Regions from separate parts of the Homo sapiens genome. Here region 1 is linked to region 2. The links come from fine-mapping of genetic effects on gene expression. A gene starts in region 2. The other region holds a variant in brackets. All regions are shown on one strand. Distances are from middle to middle. Region 1 overlaps INPP4B (inositol polyphosphate-4-phosphatase type II B). Region 2 holds the start of INPP4B (inositol polyphosphate-4-phosphatase type II B).

Region 1 (12,117 bases), 140 kb after region 2:
AGAAGGTGCAAAAGTGATGAGCATCTCTTTTGGATCTCTTTTATTTATTTATTGTTATTATTTTTGAGACAGAGTCTCACTCTGTCACACAGGCTGGAGTGCAGTGGCACAATCTCAGCTCACTGAAACCTCCACCTCCTGCATTCAAGCCATTCTCATGCCTCGGTCTTTTGAGTAACTGGAACTACAGTCATGTACCACCATGGTGGGCTAATTTTTGACTTTTTAGTAGAGACAGGGTTTTGCCATTTTGGCCAGGCTGGTCTCGAACTCCTGGCCTCAAGTGATCTGCCTGCCTCAGCCTCCCAAAGTGCTGGGGTTACAGTCATGAGCCACCGTGCCCAGCCTACACCTCTTATATAAGGTCATCAATTTCATCCATAAAGGCTCTGTCCTCATGACTTAATCACTTTCCAAAGTCCCCACCTCTTAATACTAATACACTGGCAAATAAGTTTCAACATATTCATTTTGTGGGGACACATTCAGACCATAGCAATGGCTAAGAGTCCTTTTTAAAACTGTATTAGTGAGAGATAACTGAATAGCATAATACACATAGCCATGTGTACTCTTAGGTTTACCATGATAAGAATAATAATAAATGATTGATGATAGTCACTCATTCTTTTAATAAATATTATTAGTCTTTTTCTATGGGCCACTGATTCTAGATGCTGGGAATATAGCAGTCTACAAAACAGAAATTACTGTGGTGCTCAATCTTATGATCCAGTTAAAGAAGACAGGCAGTAAACAAATAAGTATAAAGTATTCTATAAAGGGGCTATGGAGAAAAATAAAGCTGGAAAGGGGGTCAGAGTACGTTGTGGTGGGTCTGGAGTTATATATTTAAATAGGGAGGCCTGGGAGGCCTCTCTGAGAAGATTCTATTTGAGCAAAGACTGGAAGGAGGTCATAGGACCAAAGAGTGGTTTTGATAAAAGGAATCAAAACCTTTGATCTGACTTTCCTTTCACTAAGGCCATTCTAGCTACTTTTGACAATCAACAGAAGGAAAGATCTAGGCAAGAGACAATAGTAATGGGGCCCAGAAGAGGTGTTGGAAGGGACATGTTGCAGAGATAAAGTTCAATTTTAGTGTATATGGCTTCTCTAAGGCTCATGCTCTCTTCTGCAGAAGTGCCAGGATTTGAAGAGTAGAGTCAGGGAGAGACACCAAGGAACAAAAACTAGAGAGAAATACCAGAGTGATGGGAAGAGAATCATTTGTGTTGTCACAAAAGCAAAGACAGTGCAAGTTTTAACAAGATATGAACAATGTACACCACTGCAGAGAATTCAACTATGAATGTATTATATCTGAAGGAGATACATCAAATTTGACAAATAGAAGTAAATTTGTGGCATTTTCAAGAATAGTTTTAGTGGAGTTACTAAAGCAAAAACAACTGATTGAGATTGGGAAGTAATGAGGTATAGGTGGAGGATATAGATTGCTCATTCATGAAGCTTGGTAGACACAAATAAGTGGCTTTCAATATGTGAAAATAATATTTTGTTACATGAAAACTACTTTTTATATGTGCAGTACACTCATATTTTCCATTCTCCTCTTTATTATCTTTTTAAAAAAATGCTACATTTTATTAAATTGATTTTATAACCCACTCTAGGGTTTTGACTCATGATTTCAAAAACATGATCATATGTAGCAATCAGGGATAAAAGATTGCTTCTTGGAACCATTGTCCACATCCTCTACCATGTTTGTCAGTATCATATCTTGGCCATTTTGTTGAAACTTTCAAAAACATCATCTCTCTCTTACATATACAATTTTTACCCTTCAATGAATAATCACAAACTGGAAATCAATAGGAAAGCTAATCCAAATGTATTCTAGTATCATTAAGACTCAGTATACAGTTAAAGGCATTGGCTGTGCTCATAAATTTATCCTGCCAACAAAAAATATGGGCAAGTTTCCCTACTTTGATTTTATTCTGCCTCTATGACCTCTGAGATGGAGATCCATGGCCTAGAGCAGAAGGAATTAACTATGCTGGAGAGCTTTCATCCCTATTGAGATCTGGAATGGATCCTTCTTGAGCAGTGCTTGGCATATACTAGAGGCTAATACAGATTTGTCAAATAAACAAATAGTATTAAGTAATATATTTTTTGAAAGTCAGAAAACTTGCGTACGCCAATAGAAATGATTATTTCCTCCTGGGCTGTAAATCTATGCTAATGCAATGCTAAAGCTTATAGAACAGTATGAAGAATAAACTTGAAAGGAAATGAGAGGTGGGCAATAGATAGAGGGGGTTACAGATCAAAGGACAATTTCCCCTCTGAGACAAAGCAGGTAATAAGTTGAAAAGAAAGTGTATTAGTCCATTCTTGCATTGCTATAAAGAACTACCTAATACTGGGTAATTAATAAAGGAGGAGGTTTAATTGGCTTATGGTTCCACAGGCTGTACAGGAAGCATGGCCAGGGAGGCCTCAGGAAACTTACACTCATGGTGGGAGGAGAAGAGGAAGGATGTACATCCCAGGAGAAAGAGTGAAGGGGAGGTGCTACATAGTTTTAAACAATCAGATCTCATGAGAACTCACTATTATGAGAACAGCAAGGGGGAAGTCTGCCCCCATGATACAGTCACATCCCACCAGACCCCTCTTCCAACACTGGTGATTACAATTTGACATGAGATTTGGGCAGGGACACAAATCTAAACCATATTATTTCACCTCTGGCCTCTCCTAAGTCTCATGTCCTTCTTACATTTCAAAATGCAACCATCCCTTCTTAACAGTCCCCCAAAGCCTTAACTCATTTCATCATTAACTCAAAAGTCCTCAGTCCAAAGTCTAATCTGAGACAAGGGAAGTCCTTTCCACCTATGAGCCTGTAAAATTAAAAACAAGTTAGTTACTTCTAAGATACAATGGGAGTATAGGCATTGGATAAATGCACTCATTTCAAAAAGAAGAAATCAGCCAAAACAAAGGCACTACAGGCCCCAGGCAAGTCCAAGACCCAGCAAGGCAGTTATTAAATCTTAAAGGTCCAAAATAATCTCATTTGACTCCATGTCTCACATCCAGGGCACTCTGATGCAAGGGATGGGCTCCCAAGGCATTGGTCATCTCTGCCCCTGTGGTTCTGCAGGGTAGAACCACAGTGGAGGGCTAGAAAGCCCCCTCCACTGCTTTCACAGGCTGGTATTGAGTGGCTGCAGCTTTTCTAGGCACACGGTGCAAGCTGTTGGTAGATCTGCTGTTCTGAGGTCTGGAGTAGCCTTCTTCTCACAGCTCTGCTAGGCAGTGCCACAGTGGAGACTCTGTGTGGGGCCTCTCACGCCACATTTACCCTCCATATTGCCCTAGTAGAGATTCTCCATGAGGGGTCCACCCCAGCAGCAGACTTCTGCCTGGACATTCAGGTGTTTCTATACATTCTCTGAAATCTAGGCAGAGGCTCCCAAGCCTCAACTCTTGCCCTCTGTGCACGTGGCTTAACACCATGTGGAAGCCACCAAAGGTTATAGCTTACACCCTCTGGAGCAGCAGCCTGAGATGTATCTGGGGCCCTTTTAGCCACAGGTGGAGCTGGAGTGGCTGGGATGCAGACAGCAGTGTCCTGAGGTTGCACAGGGCAGCAGGGCCCTGGGCCCAGCTCACAGAACCATTCCTCCCTATGGGCCTGTGATGGGAGAGGCTGCCTTGAAGTTTTCTGAAATGCCTTTGAGGCATTTTCCCCATTGTCTGGGCTATTAACATTCCATCTTTACCTATGCAAATTTCTGCAGCTTGCTTGATTTCCTCCCCAGAAAATGGGTCTTTATTTTCTACCACATGGTGAGGCTGCAAATTTTCTAAACTTTTATGCTCTGCTTCCCTTTTTAAAAATAAGTTCCAGTTTCAGATCATCTCTTTGCCTACACATATGAGCATATGTTGTTAGAAGCAGCCAAGCCATATCTTGAATGCTTTGCTGCTTAGAATTTTTTTCCACCAGATACCCAAAACCATCACTCTGAAGTTCAAAGTTCCACAGATCTCTAGGGCAGGGTTACAATGCCTCCAACCTCTTTGCTAACGCATAACAAAAGTGGCCTCTGCTCCATTTCCCAATAAGTTCTCATCTCCATCTGAGAGCACCTTAGCCTGGATTTCATTGTCCGTATCACTATCAGCATTTTGGCCACAATAATTTAACAAGTCTCTAGGGAGTTCCAAACTTTCCTTTATCTTTCTTCTTCTGAGCCCTCTAAACTGTTCCAACCTGTGTCCCTTACCCAGTTCCAAAGGTGCTTCCACATTTTCAGCTATCTTTATAGCAATGCCCAGTTCCTGCTACCAATTTTCTGTATTTGCCTGTTCTTGCATTGCTATAAAGAACTACTTGAGACTGGGTAATTTATAAAGAAAAGAAGTTTACTTGTCTCATGGTTCCACAGGTTGTACAGGAAGCATGGCTGGGGAAACCTCAGGAAACTTACAATCATGGCAGAAGGCCAAGAGGAAGGAGGTACATGTTATGTGGCTAGAGCAGGAGGAAGAGGGTGAAGGGGGAGGTGCTACACACTTTTAAACAAGCAGATCTCATGAGAACTCGCTCACTATCATGAGAACAGAAAGGGGGAAGTCCACCCTCATGATCCAATCACATCCCACCAGGCCCCTCTTCCAACACTGCAGATTACAATTCAACATAAGTGGGACACAAATCCAAACCATATCAGAAAGACATAACTAAGGAGCCTTGATAGAGACAAAATAATTAATGGGATGGCACTGCATTAGGAAAAAAGGTGGGAGCATTCCTCTTAAAGAAGAGAATGGCCACCTCTCGTTTGAGGTTGAGTGGTTCCAATTATACTTAAGTTTGTAGACTGAGAATGGGAAGACAAGGAGGTTATTTACTAATATCTCTGAGTTTCTATATGAATTAGGATCTTCTGCTGAGAGTAAGAGAGTGTATGTCAAGAGTGGTTGAGGATAACAGTGAAGTTTTGGAGAGTAATTGAGTAGAAGAAGATGCTGATCCAGTGCAGGGATTGGTGGACTTGACAGTTTAGTACTTATCTATTCACAACTTACAATTCTGTCTTCTTTCTCATTGGTTTAAAGTTAAGATTATGAATTGATAATTCATAGGAGCCAGACAGATCCCATAGATTTGTTTTGTTTGTTTCCTGTTATTTTAATAAGCCAAGTTTTAAAATGAAGAGCTTCATATGCAAATTTTAGATTTCCAGGTGTAAAGAATAAGCCAGAAGATCTGAAATAATTCACTGGAGTTGAGCAATATTTAGCGTCTTTAGACAAGGCCTGTATTCTCCTTTAAGCTCAGCCCCTTATATTACCCAGCAAATGCATAGTGTATAATGCATATCACTCATTTGTGAGGCTTGTCTGGCCTGTGTAGGTGTATGAATGTGAGATCCCTGCTTTAAACTTCAGCCAATGGGATTTATTTTTGAAGCATGCAGTAAAGCCAAGCTTGCTTGTTTAGCCTTAGCCTAGGATGATTGCAGCTTAATGGATTAGTGGTTTTTAATGTCAGGTCATCAGCTCTGGTGGCTGAGCTCTGGATATTGAGGCATGTTAACAAAACACATGAAACAGATGGATAAGCAAATACATACCCCTAGCCAGACTAGACAAAGGACAGGATGCTCCTTTTCTCTCTATAAGGCCATTAAGCAACCGAACTTATTGACTGATTGATTGATTGATATAGTTTCTCAAAATTGTTATCAAATATCAATCATGAACCAAGTACAAAGGTAAACAACATACATATCCGCCACTCTCTCACAGAGTTTAAAATCCAGAAAGGGAGACAGGCAGCCAAACAAATGTAGCTGTGCTCTGGGTATGCCAAGGTGCTATGCGTATTCACAGCCAAGGTAATGGCCTCGAGGGCTTAGGCCTGACAGTGTTAGCCAGGCAAACAGGAGTGGGAAAGATGTTCAAATGTGGATAATTGCATTTGCAAAGTTTGGAGATGTAAAAGCATGAAGTTTAGGTAGAATGGAAGCAAATTACCTGTCAGTATAACAGGACAGGAGGAAAGGTTGAGGGATGAGGCTGGGAGTGTGGCAGAGGCCAGGCCATGAAGGAGCTGGTGAGTCACCTTAATGGATTTGGATTTTGTCCTCTGTGTAACAGGAGCCACTAAATGGTTTTAATTTGGGAGCTTTATTACATTTCCATTTAGGACAATCACCCAGGTTGCACTGTGGAGAATAGATACCAAGGAGTAAGGCTGGCAGCCTGGAAACACTGTCTAATGCAGTATACTGAGTGCTTAACTATTTGACAGCATTATAACAAAACCTTGTACATTATCTCATTTAATTATTAAGATAATCCTGTGAGACTGGAGTTTATAATAATGCCAGCTGTAAAGATGAAGAGATGAAAGCTTAGAGACATTAATAGATTGTTGAAAGTAGCACCGTGAATGAGTGGCAGAGGTAGGAATCAATCTCTGCCTTAGAGACTCATGCTCGGAACCATTAGGACATATCACCCCAACTGCAGCTTCCCAGAAGCAATATATGATCGAGGGTGGTAGAATGGCTGAAGAGAAGTAATCTACTCTTGGAAATCAGGAGAATATGATTGACTTTGTGTGTGTGTGTGTGTGTGTGTGTGTGTGTGTGTGTGTGTTTGGGGTGGGAATGGGTAGAGAGACTTGGTAGGAAGAGAAGGATGATATGCAGAATTTTTACTGATCAATTAAGTTCATGGCTTCAGTCATTCACTGAGATACACAAAAAAAGGAGAGTCAGTCTGTGGGAGATGATACATTCAGTGAATGTGCAGGATTGAAAGCCCACGCAAGTGTCTGTAGAAGCTGTCCAGCGGAGAAGCACGATCTGGATTG[G/C]CAATAGAGAACCGATGGTCCTGAACATCAAGGTTCCCATCTAATCCAGGGCAGTGGAGGACATTTCCAGGAAATATGTGTAGATTGGAAATAAAATATGACCAGGAAGGAGCAGTAGTTTAAGAACAGTCAGAGGCAAAAAGAGCCAGTAAAAGAGATTGAGAACAAAAGTCTGAGGGAAAACCAGAAAGGGTATGGTGAATTTCAAGGGGATAAAGGCCAATAAGAGTAAACGTTTCTGTAATGCTAAATAAGATAAAAACTGAGAAATGCATTAAATTCAGTGGTTAGTCAAGGGACAAAGTGATGGTTAAGCGGGCACTAATCAGGGAAGGTAGAAGCAAAAGCCAGATTACTGTGACATGAAGGATGGGTGGGGGTGAAAAGTACATACGAAATTGGCATTTATGTCAACAGGTTTGTGAGTGGTAAGAATAAATGCAGTGACTATCAGGAGCAAGGGCTTGAGGGAGAGTTGTTCTTGTCATTTGTTAAGAATAAAGGAATCATCAGCATGTTTACGTGGCAATAGAGAAAAGTGAGTAGAAAAGAACGTGAAAGATGCAGGGAAAAAGAATATGCAAATGATAGCGATCTTTGAGCAATTGGGAAGGATATCGTACAGAGCATTGGAGGGAGATTAATTTTAAATTTAACTTCCCCATGGTAATGGGAGGAATGAGTAAAAAAATGTGTAGAAGCCTGTGAATGTGTAAGTTTTGTGGCAAGAAGTTAAGGGAATCCTGCATAATGAAGGAATTCATTCTGTGAAGTCATAGAGGCCACACATGTCTTGTTTAGACAGGATTTAAATAAAGTTGATGTCTCAAGGGGTAGTTTTACCAAATTATATGTAATTCATATGTCATTGTACTCACCATTATATAACTCAATGCAATTAATTTTTATAGTAAATTCTTGTGGCAGAAGTTCTTTACTGATTTGTTGCTGAAAATTAGCTATCTCAAAATGTTTCCAATACGTTATTTATCAGTCTCACTCTGTGTCTCCCCTCTACCACCTCACCATCATGCCCCAGCTTGTTTTGTTTTGTTTTTAAAAGTTTTCTTCATACATGTTCTGGAACAAGTTCCTGTGGTTTGTTCATTCCGGCCTCCTTATCTTGCCATCCCGTTGCATCCTGTGTTGCTGGTGAGGCCTTGAGTCCTCTGCTCTGTGAAACACAGCTTCTTCTAATAGATATTCCTACCGACACACTCTCATTGGTTTTGGGGAGGTACCACCCCATTTTGCTTCTAAGGTCAGTCCTTGCTCCTGGCTAGTTAAGTGCCAGATTTTGGATACACCATCTCCTTCCACACTTTGAAGGTAATGTTCTCATACTGGGGTGCACCAAATGGTGGAGCTCCAGAAATCAGCCACTCTTCTGAGTTACTAGTCTGGTGCTGCTAGTTCACTTGTTTCCTGAGTTAGCCCCCTTTACCTACTGGAATGCATCTGGTCTTCTTTATGCTCCAGAGTTTGGTACCAATGCATTCTGCCCTCAGAGAGGAGCCCATTTTTATCCCAGGATGAACTAATTCTTTGGGGTACTAATAATTGCAACATTCATTCTTTCAGAAACGATGAGACATGCTGTAGTAAATTAAGCTGCCCCAGAGAAAACAAGCTTTTTATTTATATACCCATAAACATCAAACCCTATGTTCCAAACCTGCTAATTTGTTTAATGGGACTCCCTGGACTCATCACTAAATTTGGGAGCACATTTTTCTTTTATTCTCCTGAAGCTCTTGTTCTCTCTAGCCTTCTTAACAATCTGTTTAAGGCTGGCATTGTCATCTCTGCCCCTCATAATGTTCCTTTAATAGTACTTCTGCCATAATAGTATTGTGACCTAACCATTGAATCTAACTTGCTGCAGAATGTATTATCATTATTGTAAGGTATTTATCTTTTTAAAAATGGAAAACTATTTATTAATTTAAAATTCTGAGATTTCAAATACATACTTGTTATTTGTGAGAAAGTGGCTGTGTTTGGAAGGGCCAATACAACAAGTTGAGGACATTGTGAGAGTTTCATTTACATTAACTAATGGATAAAAATGGCCTTGAAAGACTCACAAAGAGGGCAGGAGAGAGAGTAACAGGTTCTGTACCAAGTTTTTTCACAATCTCTTCCTTTTAATCATTACATATTGTCTTCCTTTGGCAGGTGAGGAAATCGAGCTGATAGAAGTTAAGTAACTTGCACAAAATAACATGGCTACTAAGTTTCTGAGCCAAGCTTAAACTCACATCTTATTAATTCCAGAGCAAGTGCTCTAGATAAACTAGTTTTTCTTCAACATGATAGATATTAGCACTTGTTGATAAAAACATCTTCAATGTTATCTAACTTCAGATGTAGTCAGCAGCAAAATCACTAATGCTATGCAACCAAATTAGGGAAATTTTTTTTTGCAGAAATCAATCTTTATTTAAAAATGTTATAGTTTGTGAACCCAAAGTAAATTCAAAGTTCTTTTTTTTTTTTTTTTTTTTTTTTGAGACGGAGTTTTAATTTTGTTGCTCAGGCTGGAGTGCAATGGCGTGATCTCGGCTCACCGCAACCTCCGCCTCCCAGGTTCAAGTGATTCTCCTGCCTCAGCCTCCCGAGTAGCTGGGATTACAGGCATGCACCACCACGCCCAGCTAATTTTGTATTTCAATTTTAGTAGAGATGGGGTTTCTCCATTGTTGGTCAAGCTGGTCTCGAACTCCCAACCTCAGGTTATCTGCCCGCCTTGGCCTCCCAAATTGCTGGGAGTACAGGCGTGAGCCACCGCGCCTGGCCTCGAAGTTCATGCTTTAAATCATAATCTAGTGAAGAGATTTCTATTTTTATGTTTTTGCAATAAGTAATTAGGCTTTCTGGAATATGCTAAAGACTGGAATAAAGAAGAGTAGATGATTTTTAAGAGGGTCTCATCAACAAGAATTCTGTGAACCACACACAAGAAATCAACTTTACCCAGTGCCTATATGGAGTCTTTTGTGTCCAATTGTAACAAACAATTTGAACTTGAAAGAATGATTTTTTTTTTTTTAAAGAAACTACTAAAGCTTAAAGAGGACAAAGCCATGAAAGCACAGAAAAGATGACAGGGTCTGTGTGTGGGGTTACAAGCCAGGAAAACCTTGTATTGGTAAGACTGCTAACAGATTGCTCAGGCTCCTAACTTAGGCTTGACTTGGCTAAGCTTCAGTGTGAGTGGGAGCCTAACTCTTTCCAGTAGTCTGATTTCACCTAGTTCATTTTGTGTTGAACTCTCATAATATGTAATAAATGTGAGTACATTTTTAGTACTAGTATATATAGTATAGTAGACATCAAAATATCTAGAATATTTGAGTAAATACAAATATTTATTGTGTTCATTCAATTTTGAGAAACTTCTGTAGTTCACCTGTGTAGTCAACCTACCCAAGTGTCTATTTGATAGATGTCTAGAAGGGTTTATCACCTACAGTACCAGATTTTCAGGCTCTCCATAGTCGACTGTGTCCTCTGCACATCAAGGTAGAGGTACTAACTCCTTACTCCTGAGCTTGATTATAAGCAATGGTTCAGGAAGGTATCTAGTAGAAGAAATGGTCTTTCAAACTAGTGTTTAACAAAAAATTCTACAATTTCATATATATTAATATGTATTTGGTGAAATAGAAACAAGCCCAAACTGTTACCAAGACAAATCCCTTTTTCTTTCCATGAAACCTTTTTTTTTTTTTTGGCTGCTCGGTGCTGCTTGTTATTATTTTTCATTTTCAGCATGTATCTGATGATCATGCCAGCCTGATTGCACCAGTTAGAGTGTGGCTGCCCTTGACCTGATTGGATCCATGTGGCATTCCTTTAAGGAGCCTTAGAGTTGACCTTCCTCATTCTCCTGGCTATAATACATCATTTCCACCCTCTGTTTTGGGGCATCTCCTACTGTGGAGAGGCTGGCAGGAGGGAGTACCTACTAACCAGTATGGAGACCAAATGGGTGGGATATCCTCTCCTCTTTGGAACAGTCAGTGGTAATTATGACATACCTTGTTTACCACCTGCACTTTTCTGAAACTTTCAAGTAGAGGCTGCTCCAGGAGTGGCAAGCAGACCAGTTTGCTCTTGCCATATAAACTTTTCTGTGATTCCTACTTTCTTGGGGCTCCATTCCTCCCACCAGTTCCCCAAGACTGGCCTTCTAGCCTTTCATTAATGCTGTTATCTTTCCAATAAATTTTCTTATGGATTAAGGTAGCCAGAGCCTGTTTCTTTTGTTTTTGATCTATAGCCCTGACTGATACATGATCTTAACCATAATGTGTTCTGAGATAATAAATGTTTAAATCATCTGGGTATCAATATTTTATAATATTTTAGGTATAATATTATCTAATAATCCTTGGCCCAGATAGTTTTTATACTGAAAGCTGGTATAAAAATATAAATTCATTTCACTGATGCACAAACACAAAACCACACATAATTTCACAGAAAGGTCATGTGACCTACTTCTAAGAAAAGATTATAATCTGAGATAGGAAAATGCACCTGCTGCAAAAAATAAAAAAAAAATTTCATGCAAATAAGACAGGGCAAAAATGAGTTAAAAATTGGGCAAGTGTACAATGACTAGCTGTTTTCTTAAATAAGATTGCTCTTTTCTTTCCCAAAAGATGGAATGAAGGGGTTAATAGAATTTAGAACAGATACTTTGAAGAAAAGAAGTAATTCTCTATCCTACGATGGAAATAAGTACAATTCTATAGGAATCTGATTGACTGGTTTCATCTTCAATTCCTATAGATTGAGTTGAAGGAATACAAGATACAGCACAAAAAAGAATTATAAAAACCATATTCAACTCAGTACTGTGAATTTATGGAAAAGAGAAGCCATAAAATGTGTCCAACTAGTGCTCTCATTATTTAAGTTAAATTTGGTGCCTTCATTGTAAATAATAAAAAGTTTATTATTACCCATATCCATGTATTGTTCAAATTCCTCATTTATTGTGACACTAGGTTTTTTTTCTCCCTGTTGCGGTTTTAGAAGATACTACTTGGCATCATCAGACTTTTGATAAAGTGATGAGTCCCAAAGCTTGATTGGAATGGTTTCAAGAAAGGATTGGAGAAGAAAATTTGAAAACCATGAGTATAGGCAAATCTAGTAAGATGCTTTACTATACAGGGAGAGAGAGAAAGAGGGTGGTTGCTGAATAAAATTTTTTTGTTTTGTTCTTTTAAGAT
Region 2 (12,117 bases):
CATTGATGAAGAAAATTAACAAAATATTCAGAGGTAAGATGCTCACTTCTGGAAAGAGCGAGTGGCTCTCATCAATCTCTCTGATTACCACAAACATTTCCTAAAATGTGTCTGATATATAAGGTTCTTTTCCATTTTATGCTTTTAGTGACATAATTAGGTAATAAAAAAGTGTTTGGATGAAAATAGGGAGAGTAACAAAAATAATTAATTCAGATGCTTTCTTTTTTGAAGACTTCTGTTAAAAAAAGCTTCCTACTTCTTGAAATGAAGCAGCATAATACTGTCACCTTCAATCCCCCTAAATTTGAATATAGCTATCTTTACCTAATGCTTTTCTATAATTTTTCATTTGTGATTTTATTCTTTTGCCGGCATTTGCTAAACATAATCATGTAAGCTATTATGTTGTAACTTACAGATACTACTCTCTTTAAGAAAATAGCATTTCAGGATCAGATGCGGTGGCTTATGCCTGTAATCCCAGCACTTTGGGAAGGCCGAGGCAGGCAGCATCAGGAGGTCAGGAGATGGAGATCATCCTGGCTAACACGGTGAAACCCCATCTCTACCAAAAATACAAAAAATTAGCTGGGCGTGGTGGTGTGCACCTGTAGTCCCAGCTACTCGGGAGGCTGAGGAAAGAGAATGGCGTGAACCTGGGAGGTGGAGCTTGCAGTGAGCTGAGATCGTGCCACTGCACTCCAAACTGGGTGACAGAGCAAGACTCCATCTCAAAAAAAAAAAAAAAAAAAAAAAAAAAAAAAAGAAAATAGCATTTCAAACAATACATCAGTGAGAATTATATATATTAGCAGATTTTTTTTCAGTTAAATATATTTTTCCTACAACCAGATTTAAAGAATCAGATCATCTAGGACAAATATTCTTAATATGGAATCATAGATGCTATTCAGGGGTATCAATGAGCTTCCTGAGAAGATATTAAAACATGAAATATAAAAGGATATCAGTTAAGTTTTTAAACCTTGGGTATAAAAAGTGGAACATAATTTTTCTACCATAAAATTAACTTAATTATAAGCCCCTATTTGTACTCAGAAATAGCAAATTTAATTTAGTTTTCTTAGTTGTATCCAGTAATCTAAACCAAGTCTACCCTGGTTTAAAACTTACTCAGTTTAAGTATTGCTGCCCCTCCCATTTTTCCTTCGCCTTTACTTCCAGGGGAGCTTGTTGGTCCAGGGGAGACTTACACAGCATCATGACACTGGGGGACATGTCTGTCATTTTCTGAAGAGCTGACTTGGCTTCCATTCTAGAGGTGTGAATGAAGATGGCATTACTCTAGTGCATAGCCACTGACTCTTCTGAGGTCATTGCCATGGCAATTGTAGCCACACCTTTATGTTTCCATAGACAGGCCACGCCCTTTCCTTGGCATTTAATCTGGTCGCCCTCCCAGGGGACCTCTTGGTGATTACCTGTCCTGCTGGCTGTCACTCCTGACTAACTTCCAGGCCTCCTATAGCCCAAAGGAACCACAGCCTCTTCCTCATCACTTAGGCAACAAAATCCCAGGGATCATTAGCCCTTTAGGATCTAGATAAGGCATGCTAGCATTTATATTCCCACTTTACACCCTTGCCTTCTTGATACTCCAAGGGGAAAACAGTACAAGTATTTACTCTTGGGTCCTCTTTACAGAAGGGAGAAATTTATATCCAAACTTCACCCCCAGACCCTTTCTGGAGTTTGTTGTAGTGCACATTTGTTATGGGCTGAATCTTGTCCCCCTCAAATTCATATGTTGAAGCCTTAGCACCCAGTATCTCAGAATATGACTGCATTTGGAGATAGGGCCTTTAAAAGACAATTAGATTAAAAGAGGCCATTAGGGCAGGCCCTAATCCAATCTGACTGGTGTCCTTATAAGAGGAGGAAATTTAGACGCACACAGACACCAGGGCTGCAAATGCACACAGGAAAGACCACCTGAGGACACAGCGAGACAGCAACATTTGCAAGCCAAGGAGACAGGCCTCAGAAACCAAACCTGCCTATTCCTCAGCCTTTGACTTACAGCCTCCTGAACTGTGAGAAATACATTTCTATTGTTTAAGCCACCAAACCTGTTGGTAAGAGGTTATGGCATCCCTAGTGGACGAATACAGCATTCCCCACATTATAACTCTCTCCCCTCCTTCTAAGAGCTCAGTCTTCATTTCCTACTACAGCTTATTTAGGACTCATTGGAGCAGGAGCTGGTGAAGAGGGAGCTAGTTCTCTGCATTCACATATGTCCCCCACCCCAACCCATTTTTTGGCTTGTACATACCGGGCATTTTGAAGGTTTTAAGAATCTGGAGTCTTTATTTCATTTGTTCAAATAACAATGACTGGGGGAAGACAAAAGCAATATAAAGTGTTAAGTTCCAGGTCTCAAATAAATATGTCATATAACATCCCATTGTAACTGTGTGTGTGCATGCTCATATTTTTCTGGGAAATGAGTCCACAGCTCTCCTCAAATTCTCCAATGGATTTATGACTGCAAAAATGTTAAGATTCACCACCCTATTATATTTGAAATGTGACTCATTTTCAAATATATGATTTACATACAATTTTACAAATATAACCACTATGCAAAGCGCAAGAGCCACGAATATTTATTTTCAATCAATGTAAAATTCTAGCACACTCATTTGTTTTATTTTAAAAATCTCTTATTTAATTTGCCATGAAAAAAGAAGCTAAAGTAAACTGTCTGTGAAAAACTTGATTTCTTTCTCATACTCACCCAGCCCCATGCCGAGAGATCATAAAATCATACTGCTACTTATACTGGGAACAGCTATCTTCGAGCACTACCAACAGTAAGAGGCATTCCATCTTATTCAATATTCAAACATGCATATGCATTAATACACCATAGACATTATTGCTTTTTTAATATTTCTTTTTCCTACTTTCTTTTGTCTTTTGTGTCAATGTTGATGAAACAACCAGGAATAGGAGATAGTAGTGGTCAGGAATGACCTGTATTCCTTCCCTCATTTTGGGAATTTTCATCCTTTTTCTTCTTCTTCAGCCTCCCACTATAATCTACCTAATTACTACAGTAGGTATGAAAATGTCACTTGATTACCATCCCTGGCCAAGGTTGTTGGCTGGGGTTTGGTAGCTGGAAGAATCACAGTACTTGGAGAATTTGGAACTGGTTCACAAGTTATAAAGTTTAAGAGTCGTTAGCCACCATGCAATTTAGTGCACACCAGAGAAGCAGAGAGTGAGACAATGTATGTGGGGAGAGAGAGAAAGAGGGAGAGAGATACAGAATGGGACAGTTAATGTAGTGGGGGAAAAGAGACAGAGAAAGTTCTAATGGCCTGTCTGTTTCCAGTCATTCCTAGTGCCCAGTTGCATTCTTGTTTTGGGGTTCCATGGGGCAGCCAAGTATCTTTACAATAATTTATCCTTTTTACTTTAGTTCTTATTTCTAACAACATCCCCCTTAATTTAAATACACACAGACATACACACACAATATACACACAAGAGATGATGCTAATGTATACATAACAAAGTTTCTGTAATTTTTAAGTTTTTAAAAATTGAGATGAAAACAAGGACTTACTTTACAAGTTATTGTTAACATAACTGAGTAAGCATTAAAAAACCTATATGATGCTTGGTGCTATATTCTAGAAGAGATTTTGAATAGTGAAGGATCATAAAAGTAGATATGATGTCATATTAATCTCACCTGAGATAAAAATCTAGAGGAACAATGAATCTATGGAGAGAGTGTAGGCTGCTTCACTGCAAAGGCGAGTGTGACACCAACCCTGTAGATCCTGGCTTGATTTTATTGCTTTAGACAGCAAGGTAACTACAGGGAATCACCTTTGACTTCTGGCCCTACAAAGATATTTCAAAAGGAAATGAAAAATATTTTGTCCTTCATTGGCAAATGGAGTTATGTTTTGGGGGTACAAGTCAGCAAAAGTTCAAGGTTTGTAAAAGTGAATGCTGAATGAGTTTATTAAACCACGGAAGCATCTGAATCCTCCAGGCTTATTCAAGGAAAAAGCCACCAAATAACTAAAAAAGGTAAATATCAGGATGATTGATGGATTTTTAAAAATGCCTTGTGGTACATGCATCTGATGGCATCCTGATTCATATTCTCTCTTTTCTGAGAATTCAAACTTCCTACGTGATGTACACAAGTAAGTCACATATTCTTCAGCCGCCCTGTAAAAGGACTTTGTCAGCATGGTCCATGTCTGGACTTTAATTATAATAGGGTCCTCTAAGCATCTCACTTTAAACGTCCATTTCCATAGAATCAGTAACTGCATTTATTTTACAACTCAGTCTTTTAGGAGGTATGGTTTGGTATTTCTGGCATTGCTGCTGTAGTCTTCATAAACACACACACGCACAGACACACACACACACACACTCTTCCACTTAGAGGACAGATATGTTAACCATATTTCCAATTTAGTAGCAAAGCTCTGACATCCTAATGTCCTGATATTATTTCAATCTCTCTCTATTGTGAGAAAAATCAGAAACTGCCCAGTGAGAAAGTTGTATCATCTTTCCAGCAGATCTCTATGAACACGGCTTACCCATTGCTTGGAGATGGGTGTGTTCAGTGCTGCCCCATGGAGGAGAAATCTAACTGTGTGAAGGCTTCTCAAAGCTGATCCACATCTTGACAGGGATTATTTGTTCCTCACTCTCCTATCTCTCTGCATTCAGCTCACTTGGGGTAGAGGCTGAGCATAGGAGAAAAAGCTTGAAGAGAAGCAAAAGGAAGGGCTTCGGGGGCGCCAAGCAGTTTCTGGCCTATAGTGTTTATTATTTGATTCTATAAACATTTATTGAAACTACAGAATATTAGGTATTGTCCCAAGCTCTGGGAGCAGAGTGATGAAAAAAATAAATGAAACGAACAAACAACTCCCCCCACCAAACAAAACAAAACAAAACAAAACAAAACAAACCCAAAGTCCCTGTCCTCATTGGCAAGGCTTATAATGTGGTGGTCAAAGGTTTGAGGAGTGAAAGGATGCCTAGATGCGGGCAGTGACAGCAGGGGTGACAGCTGGGGGTACATACAGCTTCCTGGTTTGTGAAACTGTTAAGCCCCGACTTAACCCAAATTGATTTCACTGTCCTGACTTTGAGATTCCAGTCTTTTTGCATGGCAAATGTAACACTTGTGTACAAGCATTCGTACACTGCTTTACTTAAAATGTGATTTTAAAGCGCCCTCAGGGAGAAGGGCTGGGGTGTCTTGATGGGCTGGCTCTGGGCACCTTTACCTTTGAACGGCTCCATCAAAACCTTTCCGAGAGAGCCGCCAGGTGGCACCTGTAAAGCGCAGATGGGGAGAGTCATTTGCCCCACACCCTACACAGCCCGGAATAACCAGGGTGCGTGCTTTCCCCTGTGGGCTTGTTAGGGGCTAGGAAGTGGGGGAGTTTTAGTCTCCGTCCAGACTGCTTGCTTACATACCCCGTTTTCCTGATACCCCAACACATTCAGGGCGGATTTGTCCCCACGCACCCGGGATATCAAAGGCATGTCATACGCTAGTTGGGAGCATCTCGGCCTCAGTCACCCGCCGCGACGTGGGAACTGGCGGTGGGTGGCCGAGGGCTGCTCTAAGCTGGTCTCCTCAGCCCGACCTCTGCCCGGGGCAAGGGGGAGGAGGGGCAAGAGACAGGGGTCCCAGCGCGGCTGCAGACTGGGGTCCAGCAGGCGTGAATGGATGCCTAGACGCAGGCAGTGACAGCAGGGATCCCAAGCCCCTTCCAAAAACCCTCGGTCTAGGGACTGCGCTGCCATAGGCCGGGGTCTGGGGCGCTTTCTTCCTCCCGCGGGTTCTTTCTCTGTGGTTTCTCCTGCCCCCGCAGCAGCGTGGCGGCCTCGGGTCCCCCCTCGTCGCGGTAGCGGTGATCCCACAGCCCAGTCTGGGTGGGCGACCCAGCGGGCAGAGGGGCCGCAGAAAGGGGTCGGGGTACGGGGTGTGAGCACACGGAGCCAGCGTGGTAATTTCGGGGTGGGCAGCCGGGCCACCATCTCCGCTCTATCAGTAGCGGGAAGCGAGCAGCGCCAGTTGCGCGACTGTCGCTGCCACGGCCGCCTCTACTCGGTCGCTGGTGACATTGGGAGGAGACCGCTTGGAGAGAGCAGAGGAGGAGGAAGAGGAGCGGGGAGGGTGGGGGTTGGGGTGGAAGAAAGTAGCAATTGTGCCAGGGGGCGTGTGAGCAGCCGGAGAGCCAGCCGCGCTGGTGACAACTTCTCTGGGGCGCGCGCGGGGCTGGTAGGCGAGGAGCGAGCAGGGAGCGCGGCCGAAGCCAGAGGCTGGGGGAGCTGCTGGAGCCTCGCGAAGCCGCGGCCGGCGCCCTGCGCCGTCGCCGCCGCCTGCTAGTTTCCTCCGGGTTCTCAGCCCCGGGTACTGAGGCTTCGGTCTATAAATAGCAGGTTACAGCTCCTCCTGGGCGCGCACACGCTCACACGCTCGCAAGCGAACGCAGGAAAGTCAGGCTAAAAGTGTCTGCTGCTGCTGCCGCCCCCCACTCCGCCTCCGGGAGAGGTAATTACCCGCCTGGGATCCTAGGGCTCGGTGGGGGAATTTTGCAGGGTGGGGTGGTTGATGGTGGGTAATCCGGGAGGCGAGGGAGCGTGTCTGAGAGCGTGGCGGCACGTCTTGGAGGGGGGAGCCTGTCTGTTTTGCATCAAGTTTCTCCGTCTTGCAGCCTCCATCACCCCTCCAGCTCTTTAGCTTAAAGGGTGGGGTGGGCTGTCTCTCCTCGGCTGCTGGGGTACCCCTGTCACCGCGCCTACCCTCTCGCCGAGCGCCCCTCTGCCCGGCGCGCGCGCGTTTTCGCATTCTCACTCACACACGCACACTCTCCGGGCCCCCGTGGAACTCTGAGCTCTGGCCTCGCTGACCTTCCAAGGCTGCGCCCACCTGCGCTGTCCCTGAGAGACGCTGAGGTTGGCCCGGGCACTCGCTCTCACTTCCAATCCTGATGATCGCAAGCTGCCGCCGCCGCCGCCGCCGCCGCCGCCGGCCTGGGAAGAAGTCCTTAAGGAATAGAGGCAGTGGTGGGGAGTGAGGGTGACTGATGTTGGTGGTCCCGGTTGCCTTGTTTTTTGTTTTAAAAATAAAGAGCCCATCTCCTTGACCACCTTCATCCCACCCTCAACAACTCATTCTGGCAGAGAAGCCTGGCATGTCTTCTCTCGGCCATCAGGCAGCATCTCTTGTCCTTCCCCAAAGAGGTCTCGCTGAGAGGTTAGGGCCTTGGCGCAAGAGTGCCTGGGTTTGGACGGGGGAGGTCATTGTTTCGGGTCTGAGAACTATGCTGCAGGCTCCTCAAGCTCTCTGGCGCTCAGGCAGGGCCCAGGGCCGGGGAATGTCTGGGAGCCTGGTTCCTGAATGTAGTTTCAGGCTGGTAGCTGATATGAAGATGAGGATGCTAGAACCACATATACCTGTTTTTCCCCCTCCCCACGCTTCTGAATTCTCCCTTCCTTGGGGGCAGTAGTTTCTGCTCCTGGGGAGTCGGTGGAGAGGGGCCCAGCAGTTTCTCTTTGGGGACAAGAGGGTGAGGAAGCACATATTGATTAGGTTGTTGCTGCTGCTGCACAAAACTTACTGGAAAAACCCGGTAGGGTTTTCTATTACTCTTGTTTTAAGGATGTAAATTTACTCCTTTTCCTCTTTTATCTTCTCCCTAACCAGAACTAGTTTTCCTTTCTCTTTCTGGAATGTTATTTGAGGTCATTATATTTTATGACTCCAGATGTTACATTTTGCATATCTCCTTCCTGTCAGTATGACAGACAGAACTTGTTTATAAAGGTGTGGCTCTGTAAGTAAAAGCCTAAAGACAGAGGATAAATTCATCTTCTCTCTCTCAAGATGAGCTCCAGATAGTTCTTTTATAGGTGTACAACTACATTTCAAAGACCTTGCTTGAAAAAGGACTTTTCTTAATGAGTTCTGGACCAGAAATGGTAGTAATCTGACTCAATGATAAAGCAGCGCATAAGGTGCAAGGAATCATCAACAGGGCAGCTGGCTGATGATGTGTAAGAAGTTGAGTAAAGCAAGGACTGGGCAAGTGGGCATTGTCAGTTCACATACTATGCACAGAAATGCATCCTCTCCTTTACGCATTGATGCACATACATGCATTATGTGTTCCTTTGTGATATAATCCTGTAAAGCATTGATAGGAAATGATCAATAGTTTTGTGAAAGGTACATGGGCATTGAAGGTTGAACCTCGTGAATTTGTAGTAATGTAAAATGCTATTGCAAAATGGATTGCTTTTTCAGTGTATTTCCTTAAAATGTGATGTAGAAGATTGTCCTTGAAAGGTTATGAAATGTGTGTGTGAAGATAGGCTAAATGCTCAGTGACATTAAGAAACATGTTTGCAGATTGAAATACTGCTCTTATTCTAGGAGAGTATTCTCTTTGATTAAGCAAATCAATATTTATTTGTGATAAAATAATGATCACTATGATGTGCATATTTATAACTCAAATTTGCTTTTGACTCTTTATAAAGTGTAAGAACAACCAGATAGACCATTTAGTCTTGTCCCTCTATTTAAAGTAGCATGCAGTCAAAGGTATAGGCAGAAAATACTTTTAAAATGTTGTGTTTGAGCTTCAGTTTGGGGCTGCAAATTGAATGACTTCATGTCTCATAAGATTTTTGTCAAAATACTAAATCGCTCTACTATCATAGACCATCAGTTAAACTTGATTATAAAATAATGCTATTATATTTTAGTTGTGTGAAATGGAAAATCATTAAGCTTAGGGAAAAGCCAGATATTTGTTCTAAATTGTGCAAATTGAAAGTAATTAATTCCTTTCTGAAACCTTGGAGCATCTTCTAGTATAAGTACTATAAATCCCCAGATGGGTAACAAAGTTAACTTTCACTACCTTGAGGGAGAACCCAAGATGACAATTCTCTGAAAGACAGAAAAAAAACCTGCTAACTGATCTTAAAACTCATAGCAACCAAATGAGTGGCAGTTTCTAGGTAAGTATTTGACATCTGAGAACAAAAAGTTAAGAAATTATGGAATCATAATTAGTGAGTAAAATGCTTACTGAATATCTATTACATTTTCTTATTTCATACTGAGTGATGCCCAGTAGTACTAATATTAGATATACAAATATCATACCTAATCTGTACAAAATAAATTTTTGTCTTTCACAACTATGGGGATTTTAATAGATAGAAATGCCCTGTTTTAAATAATCTCAAGTTAAATGTTCAGGTGAAAGCTGTGTGAGTCTCTTCTGTATTATGTACCTTAGTTTTTCAACATGTCCTGTATATCTTTCTAAAGCCTTAAGGAATCTTTTCCATAGGCCACTTTGTTAATACTTTTAAAAAATGTTGAGCTAGAAACCTTTGATTAGAGAGCTCTTTAGAGCATACTCTAATCATATATACTATAATATTTAGGCTTCAGAAATGAGATTATTAAATAATTTTAGTTTAAACATTTATTTTTAGATGAATCCAAGTGATGATGCTATGATTGAATTTTGTTGTGCAAGATACATGTAGTCTTTGTGTTCTAAAACTTTAGAGCAGTATATACCTAGAAAAGATCAGTATATACCTAGAAAAGACATTAAGATATGTGCAAAAATTTTAATTACTCTTTCAGTCTCAGGCACAATGGTCACTTGAATCAAACTGTGTTAGTTTATTTTTTTAAATATATTTTCACTACCTTGTAGATTAAAAGAAACATTTAAAATGTTTAGGAAATTTTATGGACTACATTATATATAATTTATATATGTATATTTATATATATCCAGTATATTATATATAGTATATATATTATTATATATAAATATATAATAATCATATATATTTATATATATCATTATTTATATATATTTTGATATATATGATATATAAATTTATATATATCATACATATTTATATATAATTATATATTTATATATCAGTATATTATGTTAGGATTATTATAGATATATTATATATTATATTAATATTATAATATATTAATATATTATATTTATATATTATATATTATATTAATATATTAATATTATATTATGTTATATATTAACATAATATATTATGTTAGGATTATTATATATAAATATATTATATATTATACATATAATAATACAATAACTATCTTATATATCATATATTATATATTATATATAATAGATATTGTATATATTATAATATAATATATGTAATAGTTTTTTAAATAAGGCACAGTTGTACTCACTATCTTATTTCTTATTTCTTGGAAGTATCTTGCTATCAATGGTATACCATAAGGCCAATGGAATATCTAGGAGCCAGAACTTTAGATTTTTTTCAATGGACTGTGTAATTTCACCAAACATTAGCTATTATAATAGATGTCATTCCAGCATGATGTGAATTGGGTTTCAATACAGTATATGTCCTTAAATAATATATTTCAAACTGAGTTTCTTGAGTTGCAGTATTTTGAGTAAATTCTATCTTCTGTATTAGGCAGCCATGCCAACTTGGTGTCCTGATTTTAAATAGCCCTATGAAGAACTAAGTGAAATAGAATTGGCAGTAATTTGTTTAAACTGATTAAAGGAAATTTTGAGAAGTTTTTCAAATCATGTGGTTTTGGTTATACATTTCTTTGGGAATTATCTAAATCAATAATATTCAAGGGAATGAAGGCAACATCTCCTCCCTTAAAAGGAGAGCCTGTATCTATCTATCTGTCTATCGATCTATCTATCAATCTATCTATCTGTGTCTATCTATCTATCTTTACATACTCTTCTGGTTATGAAAATAAAGCAATACAAAAAACAATGGTGAAATTACTCAATTGTTTTTCTTTGTTGTTTTACAAGGATAGAAAAGTTTGCGAGATACACAGACAACTTTAATTGTCATGCTGACTTCTAATGATTGGAGTAACAGCATCAATGTAAAGCATCTTCCAAGATCAAAAGAAAAATATGATTTTTAAAAATTTTCATTTACTAGTTGTTTATAATAGATCATTTATTTATATATTTTAAATAGCTTTGAAGGAGAACTTCGAGATTTTTATGTTTCTCAAAAGAGAGTGTGAGTTTTTAAATGTTAAGCAACAATGATTTACAAGGAATCCTCTTAATATTTTTTACTATGAAAAATTTGACAGAAATATGAGCCTTTCACCTTTCACCTTAGTTCTTAGAATAGATAGTTGTAGTGCATTAAGTAGATCAGACTTGGGGACTACCATTTTAGAATACAATGAATTAAATAGAATATACTCCCTGACCATCAATAGCAATCTTTCCTTTAGTTCTTTCAAAATGGTTCTCATTCATTTTCATGGGGCTTTGCTTTCTTAGCCAAAAGATCAGAGATGAGCTCTTGCCATTAGAACAACCAAAACACAAAAACTATTCAATGCTGGGAAAATAAAAAATAAAGTAGGACTAAAACCAGTGGGATCTTTAATTGAAGTTAGAACCTATAGGTGCATGGAGATTATGGTTATCTCCAAGGAAGCTTTAAAGTACTGTTAGTGATCAGTTAACACTCTATGATGTCTTTTTCAACATCTTCTTATGCGAAACTTGCTAGATAACCACATATTCCACTTAGAGATTAGCATACATCACATTCATAAGAGAATAGCTGCATAATTGATGCGCAGTAGTTAAAAATCACTTTTTTTTAAAAAAGTAAAAATTTCTTGTCTTCCTTAACAAAACCTGTAAATCACTTTGTTTTTAAAAAGAGGATGTCTTTATTAACAAGACTTGCAATTTTTTATATTAACTAATCCATTCAGATCTTTTAAATTTTAATTTGAGATGGGTGTGATTTTATGGTATATGTCATTGCATTTATCTCCAATAGCATTCTTATTTTGAAGGAATTATGAATAAAGTATTTTAGACCTGTTGTTCTGAATAAATTTTGTTTAAAATATAGCATTTCCACTTTGTGGAAGACATCCATTGTGCATTTGGTGTTAAAGAGACATTTAGCACTAGGTGGCAGTGTGCAATGCTTAGAAACCTTGAGTCATTTTAAGTGCAATATATT

What was found. PIP is the estimated chance that this variant, and not a neighbour inherited with it, causes the effect.
Region 1: its variant is fine-mapped to the expression of INPP4B in whole blood (TOPMed, PIP 0.97).

What each region holds. Positions count from the first base shown.
Region 1 is chr4:142,699,996-142,712,112 of GRCh38, reverse strand. The region is part of intron 2 of INPP4B (inositol polyphosphate-4-phosphatase type II B); the gene reads left to right. Among named protein-coding and RNA genes, the nearest start is that of INPP4B, 140 kb to the left of the region's middle. The variant G/C (reference allele first, on the strand shown) is at 6,872.
Region 2 is chr4:142,840,672-142,852,788 of GRCh38, reverse strand. It overlaps INPP4B (inositol polyphosphate-4-phosphatase type II B), which reads left to right and starts at 6,488. Exons shown (of 26, transcript NM_001101669.3): 1 at 6,488-6,580. All of the region lies in intron 3 of USP38-DT (USP38 divergent transcript), which reads left to right. It overlaps LOC124900788 (a long non-coding RNA gene), which reads right to left and starts at 1,315. Exons shown (of 2, transcript XR_007058286.1): 1 at 1,138-1,315. RefSeq lists an enhancer at 5,145-5,731.